Homo sapiens: one gene and its partner. The protein of the gene in region 2 interacts with the protein of the main gene of each other region in a biochemical or structural test. Each region holds a gene or a part of one and is shown on either strand. Other genes may lie near its edges.

Region 1 (3,829 bases), on a different chromosome or scaffold from region 2:
AGATATGGCTCTAGACCACTGAAGAAATTTGTTATTTAATAAAGAGCACTTTTAGAGACCGAAGTCAACATATCAATACACTAAGAAATGTTTCAAGGGTCCAAATGTCATTAAATAATTATAAATATATCTTTAAAGTTATATGACCATTCACGTTAGCAAGTTACCTCAGATTTTACACATATTCATAATTTAAAAAAAAAGAAAACAACACATAGCCAAACGCAATCACTATCTATACCATTATGGCTATAATAATGTATTGCCATTTTCAGTTTTGCATAAAAGGAGAAGGCAGGTTTTAGGGATGGGATTTCTTTTTGGTTCAGTGGGAAAAGGGGAGAAGGAGTGTTAAAAAGTAAAATAAAATAATCTATCCTGATCAGTTATTTTTGAAGTCACTTTCTTGGAGCAGGAAAAAAAAAAAAAAAAACGAACCCAACAGTTCAGATGAGGACCTGCAGCATGTCTGAAAGCAGAAATTGGAAGAGTTATTCTGAATGATGGTACTGTGATGGAAGCATCCATTCTACCTCATGTCCCTTTAGTGCACCTCAACTGGTTTTGTGAGCTGTCTGCGGAGGGCACTGGTCCATACACAGCTGCCACCGTGAGGGTGTGAAGTTTCAAAGCACAGAGAGGAAGCGGCTTTGCTCTTCTCCCTCCTGAACCTGGAGTCCACCTCTCTGAATTGGCATATGAACAGGTTATTGATGATAACAGACCAAACAACAAAAACAAAAATACCTTTTCCCTTCTTTGTTCCTTTGTAAAAGTACATCTTAAATAGTAAACAATCTGAAGCTCGATTGCAATTGTCTCTCTTGAGCCTTCTGCTTCTCAATATCTACCCTCTTATGGCTGCAAGATCATGACTGAGTGAGTGAATGAAAAATCTTCTAAAAAATAGGCACTTTGTAGATAGCTAATCGATATACATATATATGCACTCTCTCTATATATGTATATATTGATACGTGTGGGATGTGGCCCCCAGATACCACTGGGCCACTGCTGAGGAATTTCAATATGGTCGCCAAACAGATTCATCCATTCTGCCACTAGAATTCAAAACAGTTGGGGAACTGCTGTGGCTTCCATCAGCGTCAACACCATCATTCTGGTTAGGCAAATTTGGATTTAATAGCGTGCTGCCATTCGAGGTGGTGGTGCATGGCGGAAGCATTCTGGAAGGAGACCGGTCTCCCCCCGGCACCATGGGAAACTGATAGGATCCTGACGAAGTGCCATAGTAGAGATATGGAGTGCTGCTGGTCTGGAAGGGTCCACTCTGGCTTTGGGAAGAGCCGGGGTAGGGTGGTGGCAGGTAGGTGTGGTAGTGAGTGGTGGCGGACATACCGAGGGACATGCCTGAGGTGACTGGCGGGGTGTAAGTAAAGGTGGCTGGATAGTGCATTCGTGGGTTGGAGAAGCGGCTCTCAGTGAGGGATGAAATGCTTGGGAACTGCCTGGGGTCTGAAAAAGGGCCCAGTTCTGAAGCACCTAAAAATTATAACAGAAGATGGAGGGAAAAATCTGTAAATATCAATTAAAATAATGATAGAATTGTTACAAGAAAAAAAAAGAGAAAACTTTAGCTTTCCCATAAAGGAACAGCAAGCCACAGACAGACCTTCAAATGCACCAGTCACTTTACAGTCTTTTTCCCCCACTTTGCAGTCTTAACAGCATTGATCCTTAAGTTCTTCACCCCCAGAGAATCCCAGAGGGCTTTAAAAACCCACATGTGTGCCAGGTCAATGTGTAAACCAACCCAACACTCTGATCACATAGGTTCACTCACCAGACTTTAAAACCAAATCCTCATGGATTTTTTTTCTCTTTTTGCTTCTCGTTGCACTTTAGATATTTGAAGTGAAATTTTTACTAAGTCAGACAAGTTTATTTTCCTCAACTCAATATAAAGAAATTCCAAAATAATGTCTTACTGTTATTTACTCTTGGTAGGCTCTTTCATCAATGAAGGAACATCAAAAAGATATCCTATCATGTTCCTATCATTTCCTTTAAGGCCTTTAAAGAATTTAAAATCTTGTCAGAGGTCTCATCTTAGCAACAGTGAAATCAAACCAGAAACTCATAACTTCTCTGGGGGTGGATAGGGAGGGTCATAAGCTACTAGATCAGTCGGTTTTGAAAATGGGAGTTAGGAGGCACAAGGGGGCTTGGTACCTTAGGAATCATTGATTTCAAGTCTTGATGGGAGACTTGTGACCTGATTTAGACCAGGTGCTAACAGTAGCTTTTGCGAGAGGCTCGCTGCCTAGGGGAGATTAAGAGGAGGGCACTCCCCACCCGTCTCCCAGGCCCCAGCACCACATCCTACAGAACCAGCTTCAGGTCAACTTGAAGCAGTAACCTGAAGGCAAAGATGGTTTTCCCCTAAAACATGAAGTCCTTTCACTTCTAAAGCTAACAGTAGGCCTCCTTAATAGATGTTTCTGGTGCCTAAGTTATGAAACCACCGTTATAAACCATTTCATGTGGAAATTTGTTTTCTGAAATGCTAGAATCTTGTAGTTGTGACCTTTAAAGATTGGGTTTATTATTATTTTTCTAGAATTGACAGAATTGTGACAAGCCCTTTTCTAATACCAGTGCTCTTGTTAAGATATTGTTCCCTTCTAAAATATTTTGATTATTCAGATCTCATATATTTGTTTCTCCTACAGCTTTTAGCTATAAAGGAAAGCACTAAACAATTCTTGAGGACTTTAATGAATGGGTACTTCTTCACCTCATTTTTATTCAGACCTTGTTCTTGGATATTACGATGTTTATTAAGGGAATAATCCGAACACTTTTCTTTAAAGGTGCTGATTGAAGGTTATTAATTTTTGTTAAAATGCACACTGCTTATAATCTTCACAAAATGCAAGGGTTAAGTGCCATGATGTGCATTTGTAATAAAAAGTGACTCTTTAAAAGCAACATATAGTTAACAAAACTCACAAATCGGACAGTAACAACCAGACAGCCCAGCCCAGCCCAGCCCTGCCCAGCCCAGCAATTGTTAAAAGTCTCACCTGCCTGGCTCTTCTTACTGAGAGTGGAAGGCCAGAGGCAGAAGTCAGAGGTGGCAGTGTCATCATCTGTAAAATGAGGGGGATGAGCTCTAAGTTCCCTTCCAGCTCTAATGTTCTATGACTATGAATTCCAAGAGAGAAGGAGAAGCAACAGCCTTAGGGGAGGGGTAGACAGAGAGGTTCCCATCCCTCATTAGTATTTCCCAGAGTCTGCAGGCCCATAAGCAGAGGGTAAAAGCTAGTGAGCAGCTTCTAAGGCCAGAAGCAAACACTTTCAAGATGAAGAACCAAAACTGACAGCCCAGGCAGTCACTCTCTGCTTTTTATAAATTCTTCCATCCTCAACTAGCCTCTACCTATTCCTCCCAAAAACGAAATTCTGACAAGCTTAAATTTAAAAATGTGGAAACAGCGATTATGACAGAATCAGAAATGGGAGCAGATGCTCCATAACATTTCCCCCGCCCAGTGCTTGTGCCCTGCCTCGTACAATACAGAGGCCAAATGGAGGCCACAGACGTTCCTCAGGCAGCCTCTGCATTGCAGGGCATCCAGGTGACCTTGAGCTGGCAGAACTAACAGCGATGGGCAGGGCACTTCTGTATGCATTAAGTTCAATATTTAGATCATATAAGAAGAACCAGAATAATGTGAACAGCGTGTATCAGAAAGAAGTCGCACTTAAAACGCCAACGTGTGCCCCCTGCAGAAGTATGGAGTTCACACAGATAGACATGTTAATGTAAAAACTGCTTCTTAGGTGTATCTGTACTTAAAATACA
Region 2 (3,829 bases):
CCCACCCTCATTTATACATCTTGAATAATTCTGTTCCATCACGATCTCTGACATTATTTTTAAATATGTAGATATGTGTGCATTCATTACCTCTTTATGAGATGAGAGAATAAAATTGCTTGTGAAGTCAGAGAAACTCAGTATTATTTCTAATCATATATATGAGAATGCCAATGTTGACGTTATCGTACAGAGTGCACATTGCTTAACTCCAGGGGTGTCATTTACCTCATAGCATAATATTAATAGTCCACGTTACTGGTACACTCTAGAATTGTACAGTGTACACTATATGAATGTATGCAACTAAATATCACACTGTGGATGACTAACATAATGAAGATAAGAGAAAAATTAGTTTATGTAAAAAGGCAACAGTAATTATAGTAACTTAAATAACCTACTGTTTATGCCAAGTACTATTCAGAATAGTATGGCACGTTAATCTATGTAAACCATTTTTTTACAATACTAAATCATGTTCAGGTTAGCCCAGTTCTTAGCTTTTTGTTCATGTAGCACAGTTGCCTGTACATAACTGAAATAAACTCTAAAAGAACAACTAGTGAGACCACTCTAAGGATGGCTAACTGTAGATGATTACAAACAAACCAGGGCTGCATTAGTTTTATTTTTGATCTTTTTCATCTTCACAAAGTAAGAAGAGTGAGATAGTAATAAAATTGTGAAACAAGATAACTGTTATGGATATTATCATAGACAGCTCCCTATGCAAGTCTAGAGAATGGGCATGAGTTATTTAGGATATCTCAGTTTTTATCTAAGAAAATATAATATGCCAATGTCTATAGGCTTTGAGTAAACAACCCAAAATTTTAATGGGTTTTATTTTTAAAGAGCATCCTCAATGGGACATGTCTAGTTCTTGTTAGAAGATACTATGATTCCTGCCATTTTATATTTTGTTCTATCCTTTTTAGAATTCTATTAAAATCTGAGAGATCGTGACAACTGACTGGTTAAGAATCTTTAATCCTACTGTCATGCTGCCACCATTAAAATCCTGACTCTACCACGTACCAGCTGAGCTACCTTAAGCAAATTACTTAATCTCCCTGTACCTCTACATATTCATCTGGTAAATTTAGATGATTATGTTTCCCCACCTTCTAGAGTTAATATGGAACTTATCACATATGTATGTGATGTAATCAGAGAAGTGCCTGACACTTATTACAGGCTTGTTAAATGGTAAATACAGTATTATCATTGAAGATTAGGTGAATCTAGAATAGTGCTATGCACACACAAGGTACTGTCAATAGCTGTGTATGTAAGACAGATCAATGTTTCATTAATCCTTTTTGCCTCACTGCTTCTTGCAATCATTCTCTAATTCACATCTCTGTATGTCCATACTCTTATGCCTATTTATAAAAATGGATTCTTCAATGAGAATGTCCATAATCACACTATTCATAAGTAATCATTTATGATTGATTTGTACCATGCTTTATAACTTTCTTGATATTTTATAGTAGTTGTACGCATATACATATGTGTGTGTATCTGTTCTCTGACTTAGAGTTGCTGTCTCATAAAAAGCAAAGAGAACATAGGTGTTCAACAATGTTGAGTTATAAGCAATTAAAAACCTAATGTTAAAAAAAGTTGCTCAATATCATATTACTATTCTATCGAGTCTTACTTCCTCCAAAGCTAACTGATAAGTACATTACATTCATCCATGATTAGATTGAATTACTCAAATGCCTTCTATCTCTTTATTGTGATTCTGGCTTTATTTAAACTGAAATGTCAATGTTTTCTAGGTATTTTTACCATTTTTGCAGATATTGGGATAATCACTTTCACTAACGGTCCTCCAGAATTTTTAGACATTTCTCCAATAAGCATCTATATTAACTAAACTAGCATTAAATAAAGTGCAAACTTACCTTGTCATAACTATGCAATTCTGTATTCTCTAAAGGATGATTTTTCATATTACTCAACAATTCTGACTGAGCAATTGAAATTGAGACTATGATAAATGTTTTACACTGAAGGCTCATTTCATTATACAGTAGTCAGTTGAAATGGGGTTTCCGAAGAAGGTATTTTTAGGAAGTGCAGAGTACAGGAAAAAGCTGAATACGTTATACAATTTAAATATTTATTGAAGCTTTTCTACTAAGGCAACATTTTGGTAATATTCACAGAAATAGCAATATGGGAGGAAATTAGGGGTAAATAGATGGTAGAGACTGTGGAAACCAAGACACCTAATGCTAAAAGTGGGATCCTCATTCATGAAGTCATTAAATTGGAGATCGAAAGGAACAGACCTCTTTATGGAAATATTATTTTCCTTAGAATTTCATCATTTTTTCTAGATGTGTCTTCTCTGATTTTTTTTTTTTAGTGCTTTTGTCTTCTTTATTGAATTTCCGATCTCCTCTTCACACTCTATTATCTTTCTAGCTGGTCTCATCCACTCCATGAGTTGCATATTTAAATCCCTAATAATGACTTCATTTCTAGGCACAATACCCACGCGCTACATAAAAATACAAAACAAAACAAACACCTTAGCATCCACACCCCTAATCCTTCCTGTTGTTCCAATTTCCCTTCCAATCTCCTTGCAAATGGCACCATTATCCACCCAGGTGTGCATTTCATGGAGCACACAGCATGCAATACAACACCAATTCCTATTGATTCTATCTCATATACAAATCTTGAATAGATTTACTTCTTTCATCTCCACTGTCCCCATTCTAGTCCAAATCACCTTCTTTTGGATGAGCTACCGTAATTGCTTCAGATTGATAGTCCTTCATCTACCCTAGGCACTTGCCAATCTCTTTCACACAAAACAGAGTGATAGTCTTAAAAAATACAAATATGTTTACATCAGTTTTCTACCTGAAACCCATAAGGCTGTCCATTGATCTTAGTATAAAGAGAAAAATAATTTCTATAACCTTCAAGGCTCTGAATGATTGGACCCCAGTCGGCCATTCAGATGCAAGCTTGTTCCACACTTTTCTGCCCTCACTGTACTCTAGGAAAGCTGTACTTGTTTTAGATCTTTCTCCATACCATTTTCCACATTCAGAAACATTGCTCCCTCTGACAGGGACATTTTTGCTCCCTCTTTTCTTTTGGACAACTATACTCTAACCTCATTCTTCTTTGCCTTGCTTTGAATATTTTTTTTTTCTCAGAAGTATTTCCCCAATTTCGAAGACTGGTCTAACTCTCCCTATTATACATTCTTATTACAATGTGTGCTTTATTCTATAGCCCTTATCTCCAATGCAAGTAGTTTGCGTGTGTGTGTATTTAATATGCACATCCTCCTTGAAATGCTAGTCTCTCTTTGAGTTCACTTGTTTAGAATACTATCGCCAGAGCATAGCACAGTACCTGGCACAAAATGGGCACTCAATATGTGTATTTGTTACATGGACAAATGAATCAATAAATGGATAACAAATCATCAGCTGTAAGTCCCTTCTTTAAACTGTGGTCACCCAAAACCACACAATACAAGTTTTAGAGAGTCACTTATTTTGATACTTTTATTTTTGGATTTATTTTGAGAGCCAATCCATTTTCAGACATTTAAAGTAAAACACTGCAAAAGCCATAGGCTTGAGCAAAGTGAACCTCTGTGATAACACTTGGTGCTCTCTGACAGCCCATTAGAGACGGGGTGTGTACACCTAATCCAAAGGAATCCTCTAGCTCTTCAGCAGCTGTTCACATGGCTCATGCCCTGCCCTTCAGCGTCTACTAAATCAGGATTCCCCAGCTGTCTGAGCTTCCCGTAAGCGATTTTAGTTAACCACCTACAAGC

Evidence for each region.
Region 1: the proteins of DMD (region 2) and RUNX2 interact in a surface display test, tested with the Homo sapiens proteins (one large-scale study listed by IntAct).

The regions. Positions count from the first base shown.
Region 1 is NC_000006.12:45,544,501-45,548,329, reverse strand, and holds part of RUNX2 (runt-related transcription factor 2), read right to left. Parts: intron 3,114-3,829; coding exon 3,048-3,113; intron 1,504-3,047; coding exon 1,025-1,503; 3' UTR 1-1,024. UniProt on the Homo sapiens protein: Transcription factor involved in osteoblastic differentiation and skeletal morphogenesis. Essential for the maturation of osteoblasts and both intramembranous and endochondral ossification.
Region 2 is NC_000023.11:33,201,295-33,205,123, forward strand, and holds part of DMD (dystrophin), read right to left. Parts: intron 1-3,829. UniProt on the Homo sapiens protein: Anchors the extracellular matrix to the cytoskeleton via F-actin. Ligand for dystroglycan.